Homo sapiens: one gene and its partner. The protein of the gene in region 2 binds, or shares a complex with, the protein of the main gene of each other region. Each region holds a gene or a part of one and is shown on either strand. Other genes may lie near its edges. A codon is read from its position in the direction of its gene.

What was found.
Region 1: the proteins of SERPINA10 (region 2) and PROZ are in contact, whole or in part, in a crystal structure (PDB 3H5C), measured with the Homo sapiens proteins. Residues at the interface, in NP_001094077.1 of Homo sapiens: Arg88, Lys89, Ser91, Met92, His94, Asp95, His257 (codon at 1,760), Asp259 (codon at 1,766), Lys260 (codon at 1,769), Tyr261 (codon at 1,772), Asn282 (codon at 1,835), Phe283 (codon at 1,838), Lys305 (codon at 1,904), Met306 (codon at 1,907), Asp308 (codon at 1,913), His309 (codon at 1,916), Leu310 (codon at 1,919), Ala311 (codon at 1,922), Leu312 (codon at 1,925), Asp314 (codon at 1,931), Tyr315 (codon at 1,934), Leu316 (codon at 1,937); in NP_003882.1 of Homo sapiens: Cys129, Pro131, Cys141, Leu142, Pro143, Ser151, His250, Met251, Arg252, Asp254, Ala257, Glu259, Asn260, Glu284, Lys285, Asp286, Phe287, His290, Leu291, Thr336, Thr337, Arg338, Arg390, Ser392, Leu393, Trp394, Gln397.

The regions. Positions count from the first base shown.
Region 1 is NC_000013.11:113,153,372-113,162,362, reverse strand, and holds the start of PROZ (vitamin K-dependent protein Z isoform 2 precursor), read right to left. Parts: upstream 3,716-8,991; 5' UTR 3,703-3,715; coding exon 3,633-3,702; intron 3,165-3,632; coding exon of another isoform or gene 3,099-3,164; intron 2,350-3,098; coding exon 2,186-2,349; intron 1,416-2,185; coding exon 1,391-1,415; intron 1-1,390. Other genes in the region: F10-AS2 (WAS/WASL-interacting protein family member 2-like), read left to right, coding at 8,377-8,449, 8,593-8,991. UniProt on the Homo sapiens protein: Appears to assist hemostasis by binding thrombin and promoting its association with phospholipid vesicles. Inhibits activity of the coagulation protease factor Xa in the presence of SERPINA10, calcium and phospholipids.
Region 2 is NC_000014.9:94,283,269-94,290,268, reverse strand, and holds part of SERPINA10 (protein Z-dependent protease inhibitor precursor), read left to right. Parts: coding exon 1-393; intron 394-1,709; coding exon 1,710-1,983; intron 1,984-4,010; coding exon 4,011-4,161; intron 4,162-6,112; coding exon 6,113-6,304; 3' UTR 6,305-7,000. UniProt on the Homo sapiens protein: Inhibits activity of the coagulation protease factor Xa in the presence of PROZ, calcium and phospholipids. Also inhibits factor XIa in the absence of cofactors.

The DNA of each region.
Region 1 (8,991 bases), on a different chromosome or scaffold from region 2:
AGGAGGAGGATGTGGGGAGGTGGCAGGGACGGGGACCTGAGCAGGAGGAGGATGTGGGGAGGTGGCAGGGACGGGGACCTGAGCAGGAGGAGGATGTGGGGAGGTGGCAGGGACGGGGACCTGAGCAGGAGGAGGATGGGGGGACGTGGCAGGGACGGGGACCTGAGCAGGAGGAGGATGTGGGGACGTGGCAGGGACGGGGACCTGAGCAGGAGGAGGATGTGGGGACGTGGCAGGGACGGGGACCTGAGCAGGAGGAGGATGGGGGGAGGTGGCAGGGACGAGGACCTGAGCAGGAGGAGGATGTGGGGACGTGGCAGGGACGGGGACCTGAGCAGGAGGAGGATGTGAGGAGGTGGCAGGGACGAGGACCTGAGCAGGAGGAGGATGTGGGGAGGTGGCAGGGACGGGGACCTGAGCAGGAGGAGGATGGGGGGAGGTGGCAGGGACGGGGACCTGAGCAGGAGGAGGATGTGGGGACGTGGCAGGGACGGGGACCTGAGCAGGAGGAGGATGGGGGGACGTGGCAGGGACGGGGACCTGAGCAGGAGGAGGATGTGAGGAGGTGGCAGGGACGGGGACCTGAGCAGGAGGAGGACGGGGGGGCAGGGGGTGGCAGGAATGGGGACTGAGCCTGCTCATGCTGCTCCCCATGCCATCGCCTGGCCCCCAGGACGCTCCCCGCTCCGGATGTAAGGCCTGGCTGCCAGTGCCTCCCACTCTGCTGGGTGCCCTTTCTTCGTCCGCACGCGGTCCCCTCTGTCCCGCCCCATCAGCCCTTCTCCGGCCTTCCCTGCCTCTCCCGCTTCCTTCTGTGCCCAGTTGTCCCCGTGCTTGTCTGGTGGTGGCTGCAGCTCTTTGCTTACTCATTCCCAGGTGGGTCCTTACCCTGGCCTCCCCCAGCCCCGTGGGTCTCCATCTGTGTTACTTCTGTCCCATGCTCTTCTGCAGTTGCCCACCTAGAGCTCCTCCCTTGGGAGGAGTCTCCTAACCAAAGTCTCCATCGGGGCCATGACTTTCCAAAATTTGAGACGAGTTCTGACCCTGCTGCAGCATGAGGCTTCCCAGGAGCCCAGGAGCCAGGCGGCTGGAGGAGCTGCTCTGGGGGGGCCCTCCTGGCCTGTGGCCCATGTCCCAGAGTGCCAAGAAACTACCCAGACACTGGGCAAGACAAACCAGGCACTGCCTGTGGCCCTGGTGGCAGAGCCCGGGGGCTTCCTGACCTGGTCCTTGGGGAGAGTCGGAGCTGCCCTTCCCTGGAGAGACACCGTGGGTCCTGGAGCCAGAGGCTTGGCATCCGCTGAGCTGGGGTCGTGAAGCGTCCTAAGCCCACCCACGCACCTCATCCCGAGGAATTAATACTTCTGAGGAGACGAAGGAAACCACTTACCCTTATATCGTCTCCAGAATTCATCCTTTAGAGTTAAAACATAAAAATGTTACAAATGGGATATTTGTTTTTCTATATTCTTTCCTGTAGATGAACTTGAAGGTAAGAAAATGTTGATTTTATTCACTTAATAGGACAATAGTGGTTGAAACAATGCACAATTTTCCTGTTTTACAGCCTATTTGTTTATGTTAAATGTATAGTAACTAAATGTATCTGTAAGATATATTACTCAACATGTGCTTACCACCACCTATTTGAGGAAGGCCAGAGTCTATGACATGGCACAAACCCACCACCCACAGCCCCTAACGTGGCCCTTCCCTTCTAGGGCCAATCTCCACGCCACCCTCCACAAAAGCACATGATATAGAAGTCACATCACCTTTTCGCTTTTTATAAACCGAGTTGAATTTTAAAGATATATACCTCTGTAGGGAGTGGGGACACTTAGTTTGGGGTAGGAGTATCTAAAATTAGGAGAATTATTCAGACTTGAAGCCTAGAAAGAAAATGTATGCTGGGTGTCTGATCAGTGTGTGGGCCTTGCCTGACCTGAAGAAATGAGTCCAGTGGGCTCTGAGCTGACTTCCAGCCCCACTCACTGCTGTAGGGAAAGGTGGATTAAGTCGATTCTCTAAATTGTTTCCTCATCTGTAAAACTGGGATTGTGTCAACCTCATCGGTAAGTAAATAGGCTAATTAATTAAGCTTAATCTCTGAGAAATGATGCTCCCTGGGCCAGCAGAAGTCTAAATAATGAGGAGGCCTGTGGTTTGTGGTGGGGGTACATACAGTGACTACTTCATTTTCAAACACTTCTCTTGCTTCTTCATAGACACAGATTTCTTCATAACATTCTTTTTCCAAGTTTCCCTCGAAGAGTTCTTCCAGAAGATAGGAGCCCGCACGCTTCCACCTCACCAGAACGTCGTTTGCTTTGGAGGCCGGGAGAAATACTACAGACGAGACAAGAAGGCAGGTGACTGGGAGCACCGAGGGCCCTGCTTTCCAGAGCTGCCTGGCTTCCTCCCCGGCCGGCCGCCAGCCCCAGCCCCGTCCGTCTCCACAGGCTCTCAGCCTGCGAGGGCCTCAGGGCCACCCCGCTACTCCCTCCCCCGAGGTAGGCAAGCACTTCATCCTCTGGGCGAATGGATCAGCCCCAGGATCAGTGCGGATACACTAAGGTTCTGCAGAGAGGCCACGGGCCTCAGTCAGGAAAGTGGAGGAGGGAGGGCTCCAACTGGGTTTTGGGTCTGAGTGCGAAGGAAGGCTGAGCTGGGGTCAAAGGTCCCCGTACTGAGAACTGGGGACCAAGAGCCATCAGCTCCTGTGCTGCCTCTGTGCGCAGCATTTAACATCTTGATAAAACACATAAAGAAGAAACTTATACATTGCAGCAGGCTCTGCGATTTCCAGGAGGAGAAGGCAAATGAGTTGACCCGCGGCAGTGGTCTCTGGAGCCTCTTCCCACCTGAGGGTCCCAAAGCATGTTCTCTCCCTCTCCGGGAGGGTCAAAGCCCAGGCCCTTCCCATCCTCCCTCCTTTTCTCTCGGTGCTGAGGGTTACAGCAGGGGGGGCTCAGCTAAGTCCGGCTACGGTAAGTGCTGGGCAGGGCAGGGCGGGGGGATCACCCTCTCAGGGTGGGAGACCATGGGGCCAGCGGGAGACCATGGGGCCAGCGGGGATGCTGGGTGTTTTGACTTGCAGCTTTCCTGGACGCCTGTGCAGGCAGAGTCAGAATGGAGTCCATGTCGTTCCTTCAGTGAAGTGGCTGGTGGTAGAAGGGTGGCAGGCAGGCAGGGTGGCTGCTCCCTGGCTATGTCTCCTGACTCAAGACTGGGCATTCCTGGCTGGCCTGGCCAAGGCTCTCTCTGCCCACATTGCAGTCTGGGCTCAGCCTGCCCCACCCCCTCCCCTCGTCCAATGCCCAACCCAGGCCTCCCCCCACTCCTCCCCCTTTCCCCCTCCCCTCTCCCCGGCCTTTCCCGGCTGAATCCCCTGCACACAGGCTTCTTTCCATTTGGGCATCTCTTGGGAGGACCCCAAGTGACACTATCATGTCCCAAATACTTGTCACCAAATGATAAAGATCCAAACAGCTTTTTCAGGGGAATTAAGACTAGTCTGGGCACTCAGGGCTCCTCTGGCTCCTGGAAAAAGCCTCATCTACAAATCCACCATGGACCGAGTCAAGAAAGACACAGCACAGGCACAACAGACAGGTAAGCCAGATGCCTACCTGAGGGCTCCACACGATGGAGGGCGAGGACCAGGACCAGGCCCTGGAGCAGTGGGACGCAGCCTGCCATTCCCACCCGGAGCGCTGGGACAGGGCTACAAACACAGCCAAAGTCCAGGCTGGGGGAGGTGCCGGCAGCAGGAGCCTCGGGGCACGACCTGTGCAGCTGTGTGCTTCCCTCCTGACGTTTTCTGTTTGAGGCCAGGCAGAGAAATGAACGGTGAAGGCTCAGAGGACCCTGGGAGATATTTAGGGAGACAGAGAACAGAAGGTAAAGGCAGCAGGTGCAAGGTGGAAGGTGGCACCCATGCCCGTGTGTGGTCAATGGAGGTGAGATAGGCCCTGGGGACACAGCACTGGGCGGGACAGACAAAGTCACATGCAGCTTACGTTCTAGGTGTGTGTGGAATACACAGAAAAGAACGAGGGAAAGAGACAGGAGGGAGTGAGGGAGGGAAAGCAGGAGGATGGAAAGAAGGAAGGGGAGAAAAGGAAGGGAGGGAGGGAGGAGGGAGAAAGCGGGGAAGGGCCAAATAGTGTCTGTCACTACAGCTCAGCACCATTGTAGCAGAGGCAGCATAGACAATCATGAATGAACACTTGGCTGTGTGCCAATAAAGCTTTATTTATAAGAGCTATTAAGGGGCCAGATTTGGCCCCAGGGTTGTCGTTTGCTGCTTTCAGATGTAGGCCCTGTGTATTAGTCCCTTCTTACACTGTTATGAAGAAATAGCCAAGACTGGGTAATTTAAGAAAAGAGGTTTAGTTGACTCCCAGTTCCACATGGCTGGGGAGGCCTCAGGAAACTTATAATTATGGCAGAAGGCACCTCTTCACAGGGTGGCAGCAGAGAGAATGACTGAAGCAGGGGAAATGCCAGATCCTTATAAAACCATCAAATCTCTTGAGACTCACTCACTATCCCAAGAATAGCATGGTGGAAACCACCCCCATGATTCAATTACCTCCCACCGGGTCCCTCCCAGGACACGTGGGGACTATGGGGATTACAATTCAAGATAAGATTTCGGTGGGGACACAGCCAAACCATATCAGCCCTTGAAGCCTGAGGTAAGAACCTGGTGTTTCATTTTCACTGTGTTGGGAAGATATTGGAGGGAACAGGAATTGACATGGAAAGATTTGTGCTCTGAAGGGATCACTGGGCTGCTGTGTGGAGAACAGAACATTCCAGAGAAGTCAAAAGGGAGGCTGCCGGCTAGTCCAGGAGGGGGTGAGGGTGCAGCCATGCAGCAGGAAGCACGTTTGCAGTCTGGATGCTTCAGGAAGGGAAAGCTGATGGGATTCATGATGAATTGTGTCGGGCAGCACGGCTCCAAGGTTTGGGCTGAGCGATTGGGAGGATGGCAGTGCGTGTGCTGAGACGGCCAAGCTCCAGGAGGGCAGAGGGAAGCGAGGTTTGGCAAATTTGAGGTGTCTGTGGGATGTCCAGGTGGAGACAGGAGTGGGCATCCGAGAAGCTGGGACTCACAGTGGAGATTCAGGTGGTAACAGATGAAATGACAGCATTGTCAGCATATAGATATTGTTCGATTGAATGACACTCAAAGGTGGCAAAACTCAATGAAAGGATTCTAAATACAATTTTGTTAAAGTGGGAACAGAAGAAAACTAAGAAGCTGACACCCTTGATTAAGAGGGCATGCCCGCAAATACACTGAAGTTGTGAAGTTTGCTTTAAAAAGCTGGGAAAAGAAAATAAAGTTTATCTTTAGTGAGTGAGTTAAAATAATTTGAAAGCCAGAAGTTGATTGTATAGGATAGCTCTTGGGTGAATTGCACCAGCCTGGCAATCTACGTGGCCTTCACTTAAGAAAAGGTGCCTTTTTTTGTGTGAAAATGTATTCCCACATGGAAATTTACATTAAAAATACTTCTGCTGGATAGTTTAAAAACCATCAATAGCTGCCTAAAAATGGAAAGGCAGACAGGGACATACACATTCGATCAATAAGTGTTAATTAAGCACATCCTATATGCCTGACATGGGTATCTGAGCTACAACCTCTTCCCTCATGGACCATTTTAGTCTGTTGGGGCTGCTGTAACAAAACACCTTAGAGTGGGTAATTTACGATAAACAGAAACGTAGTGCTCACAGTTCTGGAGGATGGGAAGTCCAAGATCAAGGCTCCAGTAGACTCAGTGTCTGGTGACGGCCCATGATTCATAGACGTGTCCTTGGATGGTGGAAGGGAGGAATGTGGGTGCTCCCTGGAGCCTCTTTTGGGAGGGCAGTCATCCATCCATGAAGGCAGAGTGCCTCCCAGAGGCCCCACCTCCTAGTACTATTGCACAGGGGGTTAGGTTTCAACGTGAGTTTTGGGGGATGGTTTGGCTCTGTGTCCCCAACCAAATCTCACCTTGAATTGTAATAATCCCCACAGGTCAAGGGCAGGACCAGGTGGAGGTGATTGAATCATGGAGGTGGTTCTTGTGATAGTGAGTGCATTCTCACAAGAGCTAATGATTTTATAAGGGGCTTCCCCCTGTGATTGACACACATTTTCTCTCTCCTGCCACCCTGTGAAGAGGTGCCTGCTTGCCATGATTATGTTTCCTGAGGCCTCCCCAGCCATGTGGAACTGTGAGTTCATTAAACCGCTTTTCTTTATAAATTACCTAGTCTCAAGTATTTCTTCACAGTGACATGAGAACAGACTAATACAGGAAGGCATCAACATCGAGGCCACAGCTGTGATTGACTGTGTTGTACGTGGACTGACCGTGTTGTATGTGGTGATTTAATTTTCTCATCTGCCTTCTCAAAGATACCACCTTTGGACCAAAAATTCTACAATAATAAATTGTCCAAACATTAAGATTCACCTCGTTCTACTCATCTTCCTCATCTCTCATATGAATAATCGTTCTTCTGTCACCCTCTTCTGTTCTGAAAAACAAACCAACCAACATTGGGACACTTTTTCCATTGACTGGTTTACTTTCCTTCTGTATACCTGAGGAGAATCTTCCTTCCTTTGGGGTCTTTGTCGTGTCCTTCAGATGTTGGGGTGTCCTCTGTGGGGGTCCCCAGCTTAAATCAACTGACCCCACAACTTTGTGTGGAACCTGAAATGAGCAGCCTATGGAGAACCTGGTCATTGAATACTTAGATCTTGCCGCAGTCCCTATTTAAATACCTGTTCAATCAACTCTGGGACCTATGTTTTAGATTTCAACATCTCTGAATTGGCCTGTTCCCTACAGCCAATGTTCTAATGTCAGCCTGGACAAGGCCGAGTTCTTCCTGAAAGGGGTTGTGCTTTATGTTGCCCCCTGGGGGCACTGCCACTTTGCAATCCCTTTAAATACATTTTTTTGTGTGAGTTTTGGGAGCCCATGTGAATAGTGTAAATGTATTGCAAAGCTGGTTCCTGGCTGGCCTGTGGTTTAGATTATCTGAGCTTCCCCCTCTTGCCTCCAGGCTGAGCTGACCCACAGCTAATTTGGGTATATGCTCTTTCTTTCAGGTTCATCAATAATGGTGCGTCTTAGATTCACAGAGTAGAGTGTGGTCTAGTCCACTTTGTGGTGCTGTAACAGGATATCTGAGACTGGGTAATTTATAAAGAACAGAAATTTATTTCTTACAGTTCTGGAGGCTGGGACATCAAAGGTCCAGGGGCCCCCATCTGGCGAGGGCCTTCTTGCTGCGTCATCCCATGGTGGAAGGTGGATGCGCGTGAGAGAGAGAGAGAGAGAGAGAGAGAGAGAGAGAAAGGGGAGAGAGGAAGGGGGCCAAACTCATCCTTTTATTCCAAAATAACGAACCCACTCCTACAATAGTGGTATCAATTCATTCACGTGGGCTCTGACAATGAATGCGTCTTAAAGGTCCCACCTCTCAACACTGTTGCCTTGGGATTAAGTTTCCAACACGTGCACTATAGGGACACATTCAAACCACAGCATGCTGCATCCTCTGATGTCCACATTGTGGATGGAGGTGGCAGCTTATCACCTGGAGCTCCTGAAGAAATTAAAGAGGAGACACATGGTGACGCAGCCCACAGCCTGGCGTTTTTAGCATCTCAGAAGCACTGACAGGGACCCGCAAGCTTATGAGAAACTGTTCAACTCATTGGGCTTCCTCAGAGCTTGGGAGACCATTAATGTGGAAGACACTATCTGGACATGTTTCTCTTTTTTCCACCTGTCTAGATTTTCTTTCAGGATCGGGGAGACTTCTGGAGTAGAAAAGCCACTCCAGAACCCTTCCTCCTCCTCCCCCACACCCCGCCTCATGAGCGGCTGCCCTCCGCGTGGCATGGAGTCCCCGCGTCCACTCAGAACCCTTCCTCCTCCTCCCCCGCGCCCCGCCTCCCCCGCGCCCCGCCTCCCCCGCGCCCCGCCTCCCCCGCGCCCCGCCTCCCCCGCGCCCCGCCTCCCCCGCGCCCCGCCTCCCCCGCGCCCTGCGTCACGTGCCCCTGCCCTCCCCGACGCCCCGCCCCCCACGCCCCTCCTCCCCCACGGCCCGCCCCCCCACGCCCCTCCTCCCCCACGGCCCGCCCCCCCACGCCCCTCCTCCCCCGCGCCCCGCCTCCCCCGCGCCCCGCCTCCCCCACGCCCTGCGTCACGTGCCCCTGCCCTCCCCCACGCCCCGCCCCCCACGCCCCGCCCCCACGCCCCGCCTCCCCCACGCCCCGCCCCCCGCGCCCCGCCTCCTCCACGCCCCGCCTCCCCCACGCCCTGCGTCACGTGCCCCTGCCCTCCGCGCAGCATGGAGTCCCTGCGTCCCGGCTCCACGGTGCGGGAGTCCTCCGTGGTGGCTGAATTCGCCTTTCAGGCCCTATGTTCAGGATTTGTGATCTGGGTTTTAAAAACATTTTTTAGAAGTCATTGGTAATTAAAAACAATAAGTTTTTTATTGTGGTAAAATAGACATACAGTTTACCGCAGGAATCTTTTTTTAAGCGTACAGTTGGCTGACCCTGAGTGAATTCGCTGTTGATAATCTGCTTCTCCCTGAGCTGCTGTCGCCCACACTCGCCGCTGGCCGTGCTTGTTTTTCTCCTGGAACTGGGGCCGGTGTCCCTGTTGACCTTGTCCCGGGTAGCTGAGCCCAGGGGACTCTCCTTCCTAGGGTTACCGCTCAGTATCAGCACAGCCACAACGTCCAGCCAGGGAGGGCATCCGAGGCCCTCAGCACCCACCCCGGGGGTCCGGCCCGCGTCAGGCTGCGAGTTCCCGAGTCCCTGGACCCAGCTGTGCCTGCTGGGGTCAGCGCAGTCTGTGAGCCTCGACCCCCAGCTCCCAGCAAGGCCTCCCAGCAAGGCCTGTCGGAACCCAGCGGAGACCGGCGGCTGGGGCTTGTCCTCGAGCGGGGGCGCAGGAC
Region 2 (7,000 bases):
TGACAGGCTTGATGCTGGGGGCCACAGGGCCGACTGAAACCCAGATCAAGAGAGGGCTCCACTTGCAGGCCCTGAAGCCCACCAAGCCCGGGCTCCTGCCTTCCCTCTTTAAGGGACTCAGAGAGACCCTCTCCCGCAACCTGGAACTGGGCCTCACACAGGGGAGTTTTGCCTTCATCCACAAGGATTTTGATGTCAAAGAGACTTTCTTCAATTTATCCAAGAGGTATTTTGATACAGAGTGCGTGCCTATGAATTTTCGCAATGCCTCACAGGCCAAAAGGCTCATGAATCATTACATTAACAAAGAGACTCGGGGGAAAATTCCCAAACTGTTTGATGAGATTAATCCTGAAACCAAATTAATTCTTGTGGATTACATCTTGTTCAAAGGTACTTTGATAATGTTCTGCTCTCCCAAGGCCACAGGGCCCTACGATTGTCTCTCCCTTTCCTTTCGTTAGGCCAGCATATGATTAACGCTACGTGATTTTCTATGAATGTGTTTTCACGTTTCAAAAACAGATTGATACACATATTGAACAGTGCCAGACGCTGTCATTTGAGGCCCTTCCCTGGTATCCTATGTGCTTGTAGTCCTTATTATTTTCAGAGCACTCTACATAGCTCCCCTCTGACACTTAGAAGCATAGGGTCTTTCCAAAAAACAGGGGGCTGGGGGATTATCTGGGGGATTTAGGATTGCATCATTGCTCCTTCATTTTTACTTTTTGACCAACTCTCTGCCCTTAGATTCCTATTATAGAAAATAGGGACACTCCACCTACTACAGTGTTAGAGGCTAAATGAGACAATGAATGTAAAGTGCCCAGATGGGCTTGGCACATAGCAGACACTGAGTATCTATTGTTTACTTGTTCTTCCAAACTGCCAATCAGCAGGTAGAGCAGGAGTTGTCTCCTTTCTAAAGATGAAACCAGCTCAGAGACGTTAGCTTGATCAAGGTCACACAGTAAGTGGCAGAGGCAAAACCCAAACAAGGGCCTCCTGACCCCCTGATCCTAGGTTCTGTCCAGCCCTGCCTCCCTAATGGGGCACTGGACGTGGGTTGGATGCCACTTTCGCAGAGCTGGCACCAGACTTACAAAGCCCCGGCAGGGGAAGCCACTTTACAACCAGCCAGGCCACACCCCCAGGGCAGACGTTTATGTAGAGAGTAATGTACCTGCCTGCTAGTAGCCTCTGCATTGTGGGGCCTTCTCTCAGAACCACACTAAACAGTGGGTGGGTGAGAAGTGTCACTCCTGCCACCTTGGACTCTGCATGTGCTTGTGCCTGGTGTGAATGAGACAAAGTGGCAGTCAGAGGTGCCAGGCAAAGGCTTTTCTCTAAGCTGGAGCCAACTATGAGGGAACGACTGTGAATTCCGTTCAGGTCCAGGACAATGAGAGGAGCCAGGGATTGTTAGGAAACATTTCCCTGCTTTCGTGTGCGATTCCCAATAGGGCCTGCGAGTGGAGCTGCATTTTGCTAGCTGGGCTAGAGGACGGGGAAAATTTTGGGGAAATTTATTTTGCCTGCCTGAGCTGTGGAAAAGCCAACCCAATTAGGGAACGCCTTTCCTAGTTGGAACGAGAAGACGAGAAGTGAGAGAAGTGAGATAGAAGGCTCCCTCTCTATTATTTGAGCAAGAACAATGCTTTTCAAAGAGGGAATTTCTGCAATGAGTTCTTCTCTTACTTGTTCAGGGAAATGGTTGACCCCATTTGACCCTGTCTTCACCGAAGTCGACACTTTCCACCTGGACAAGTACAAGACCATTAAGGTGCCCATGATGTACGGTGCAGGCAAGTTTGCCTCCACCTTTGACAAGAATTTTCGTTGTCATGTCCTCAAACTGCCCTACCAAGGAAATGCCACCATGCTGGTGGTCCTCATGGAGAAAATGGGTGACCACCTCGCCCTTGAAGACTACCTGACCACAGACTTGGTGGAGACATGGCTCAGAAACATGAAAACCAGGTACAACTCTTGCCCACACCCTATACAAACTCTACCTTTCTGTACTGGCAAACGCTCAGCACAATTTCATTGAATGCACCGTGATTTAATGTCTCCTCCAGTGAGCTATAAGTTTCCTGAAGGCAGGGCAGCATTTGTCTTTTTTTCCACTCTATCCCCAGCATCTGTCACAGGGTGCCTGGCTGATTCATTCATTGAGTCCATCAGTATTTTACGTTCTGCGACTGTGATAAATATATGATGCCAGGGATCCATCAGCAAACAAAACAGGCAAAATTAGTCTGCCCTCATGCAGCTTACATTCTATTGAAGGAAGACAAAGAGTAAATTAAAAATAGGTAATAATGCAGGGAAGGGGACAAGAAGCATCATCAGGATGCAGATGGAGGTTAGACAAGGCCTCTCCAAGAAGGTAACAGTAAGCAAACATCTGAAGATGAAGGATAAACCATGTGGATATATTCGGGGAGAGAAGTGTTATGTTACAGGCAGAAGTGTACAAGTTCTGGGATGGGAGTGTACCTGGTGGGTTTGAAGAACATCAAGGAGACAAGTGTGGCTTCAGCAGTTGGAGATAAAATCAGAGAGGAAACAGGGGCCCAGTCCCCAGAAAAGACTTGGGCTTTCCTGAGAGAGGCAGGAAGCCACTGGATGGTTCTGAGTAGAGGAGCAACCTGATTTTGACTTCTGTTTTTAAAGGATCACATAAGCTCCTGTGTTGAGAAAAGACACTAGGGGGTAAGGATGGAAGCAAGGGAGAGTGGTTAGAAAGTTACTAGCAATCCAGGTAGAGATGCTGCTACCTGGACTGCGGTGGTGGTAGTGGAAGTGGTGAGAAGTGGCTGGATTCTGGATCTATTAGGAAGTGCAGGATCTGCTAATCGATTGGATGTGGGTGAGAGAGGTGTCAAAGGTGATCACAAAGTTTTTGGCCTTAGCAACTGGAAAGACGGATTTGCCATTTACTGAAAGGGGGAGGAACAGGTCTGGGGTAAGTGCAGAAGTTCAGTCTTAAACACTTGGATCAGAAATATCTATTAGACATCCAAGTTGAGATGTCAAGACGACAGGTGGATCTGGAGTCTAGGGTGAGGTCCAGGCCGGAGATATAAATTCGGTCATCAACACAGAACTAGAATCTAGACACATGACAGGGTTGGGGTCTGTAAATATAGAGGAGAGGAAAAGAAAGCACAGAGTGGGCACTGAAATGTCTGCCCAATAAATTAATCCACCTATTGGAGTACAAGGAAAATGGCTGCAATACGAATTCCATGGCTATGGCTTCTGAATCCTGTGACTCAGATTTTGGCAGACAAGTGCAGCTAAAGGTCCCCAGGGTTAGTTTTATCTTCATTATTCTTCTTTCATTTTTCTTCATATCTTTAGCACCTAACAATGAACCCCAAACATCATAAGCCCTCAAGTAATGTTTGCTGAATGAATAACTTTTTAAATTAATCTTCAAGACACGTCATGTCCTCAATTATTTTTAAATAAATAAAAAAATTTTATTTTGAGCCACAGAACTCATCTTTTCAAGCAACATATTTTCAAAGGAGGACTCCAGTATACAAAATAGATGGTATCAGAGCTTCTCTGGCTAAAGACGGGTAGGGGTTGAAAGTTTTCTTTGCTCCCCTCCCCATCCATCCCCAGACTCCTCGGGTCTGCAGAATCCAGGAGCTGAAAACAGCCATCATCCAGGAGGCTGCAGGACTGCTGAAAGCAGCTGTTAACTCAGGTTTTTTTTAAAATATAGGGAAATGAACACATAAGTACTTTGCTAAAGAAAACGTGAGTCACTGGCTGAGGAATAAAACTCATTCACTGAAGCTGAAGTACTATTTGATAAGCTAGAAATATTTTCCCTGAGTAGACCACTGTAAAAGAATGGCATGAACTACATAGTCAACTGAAAGACTCATTAATGGAAATAATCTTAAAGAACAAAAATTGTGACCTTTTTGGTGTCCACAGACTAGGGCTTTGTCTACATTTCACCATCATCTGTTCTTGTACCACAGAAACATGGAAGTTTTCTTTCCGAAGTTCAAGCTAGATCAGAAGTATGAGATGCATGAGCTGCTTAGGCAGATGGGAATCAGAAGAATCTTCTCACCCTTTGCTGACCTTAGTGAACTCTCAGCTACTGGAAGAAATCTCCAAGTATCCAGGGTAAGTCAGGATCTTTCATCAGAGCCCAACCTCAGCATGAAATGTCACCAAAACAAATGCTTTTACAAACCATTTAACTTTGATAAAATACCTAATTGTAGTGGAAAATTAGATTTAAGTCCCAAATACTTGAAATAGCACCCAGGTTGGATGTTTTAAGAATTTCAAGCAACTTCATTAAAATAACTTTTCAACTAATTTATTTTAAGCAGACCTCTCCCCCTCTGCTTAAAGTGCTCAGGGAGAAATTTGACCCTGAAATAGAACTGGTTTACAGAGGCATCATCATTTATGTTGAATACAACTTGAATAGTTCATGAAATTACACCACCTTTACAATGAAACAAACCCCTAGACATCATCTAGCCCAACTTCTCCCTCCTTGTGGAAATCCCCTCCATAGCCCTACGAAATAGCCCTCCAACTTCTCTTCCTCTTCATGCTTCCAGTGACATCAAACTCACCATTTCTTTGAAGAGCTGCCCAATCCACAAATAGCTAAAATTGTTATATGTATATATATATATGTGTGTATATATATGTATATATGTATGTGTGTATAAATGTATATGTGTGTATATGTGTGTGTGTATATATATATACACACACATATATATATATATGGAGAGAGACATACATATATATATGGAGAGAGAGAGAGAGAGAGTCCTGTAACTTCTGATTCATACTTTTTGGTCCTAGTTCTATCTCTAAAACTTCTAAGAACAAGTTTAGTCACCATCCACATAGAATCCCTTCAGTTACTCAGTGTTTCTCAGTGGAAGGGTTCTTGGTTTTGAGGGGAACTGCTTGTTGTCCAGAGCAGTTGTGCATGTTGCAGGGAACTGGTTAGCATTGCTGGCCCATGTTCACTAATGCCAGTAGGAAACTCCAGTCATCACTATAAAAATGCTCCCACACATTTCCAAATGGCAGCTACATCTCTCTACATTCTTCCTTAGCTGTGTGGTTTAATATTTTCTTATACAATTGCAATTTTCAATTCCAAGAGAGACTAAAAATGGCATCCACTTAAGTAGGACACAGTAGGGTAACTGTGGCCTGGAATCAGGTCTTACAACCTCAAGAGAGGTAAGACAATTAAATAAAACAATCCGTCAGACCAGCACCTGAAAGTGTTTCTGCTATGAACACATGAAAAACTGAAATGCGCTGCTGCTTTATGAAGGGTCATCATGAAATTTAAACTGTAAATGATTAAATATTCTCCCTCTGTTTGCTCTGGGGAATTAATTTTCCTCTAGGAAATCAGGGAATTTCCTGGAGTGAAAATCAGTGTAATTACATGTTATGTTTTCATTATCTCTTATAACACAGTAATTATATAGGTACATCACTCATATCACATCTTGTTTCTGTAAAAAAGGGCCTCCCAAACATAGCAAGCAGCCACAGTATAGGCAGCCAGAATTCAGGAAGGCTCCAGGGACCCCTGGGCTTGGCCCAGAAAAATGCCTCAGAGTAGTACCAGGTGCTGGGAAGCTGCTACAGAAGACTAGCCATTCCCTGCCTCCACCTTGCCTGCCAAAAGGAAAGTCAGAGGACTCAAGGGATCCAGGGATCAAGGGATCCAGGCAGCTTGAAAACCTTTTAGGAGCACCAGCTCAGCTCAAGAATTAGTAGCATAAATTACATGCTCAATAAAGATTTGATGCATGAGTGCATCCTGAGTCCATGCCCGGAATGTGTTTCACATATTCCACAATACTTCACATTGGGTTCCTGAGGTCTCCTGGTATTGTTTAAGACTCCTGTGGCAGTCCCTGGTGCAACCCCAGACCACTCCTCTTAACGTAGATGGGCCTGCTCCACTAAATCCCAGGAGCATGACCCCATGGGTAGGACCACTGTGAAGAATTTCAAGGGGCTCATTTAATTCCTCCTTTGCACTGCCACACAAATGGTTTTTCACATTATTTCCTTTTTCCAGGTTTTACAAAGAACAGTGATTGAAGTTGATGAAAGGGGCACTGAGGCAGTGGCAGGAATCTTGTCAGAAATTACTGCTTATTCCATGCCTCCTGTCATCAAAGTGGACCGGCCATTTCATTTCATGATCTATGAAGAAACCTCTGGAATGCTTCTGTTTCTGGGCAGGGTGGTGAATCCGACTCTCCTATAATTCAGGACACGCATAAGCACTTCGTGCTGTAGTAGATGCTGAATCTGAGGTATCAAACACACACAGGATACCAGCAATGGATGGCAGGGGAGAGTGTTCCTTTTGTTCTTAACTAGTTTAGGGTGTTCTCAAATAAATACAGTAGTCCCCACTTATCTGAGGGGGATACATTCAAAGACCCCCAGCAGATGCCTGAAACGGTGGACAGTGCTGAACCTTATATATATTTTTTCCTACACATACATACCTATGATAAAGTTTAATTTATAAATTAGGCACAGTAAGAGATTAACAATAATAACAACATTAAGTAAAATGAGTTACTTGAATGCAAGCACTGCAATACCATAACAGTCAAACTGATTATAGAGAAGGCTACTAAGTGACTCATGGGCGAGGAGCATAGACAGTGTGGAGACATTGGGCAAGGGGAGAATTCACATCCTGGGTGGGACAGAGCAGGACAATGCAAGATTCCATCCCACTACTCAGAATGGCATGCTGCTTAAGACTTTTAGATTGTTTATTTCTGGAATTTTTCATTTAATGTTTTTGGACCATGGTTGACCATGGTTAACTGAGACTGCAGAAAGCAAAACCATGGATAAGGGAGGACTACTACAAAAGCATTAAATTGATACATATTTTTTAAGATGTTTGTGCAATCTGTCTGGTATTTTAAGCTTGTTTCTAAGA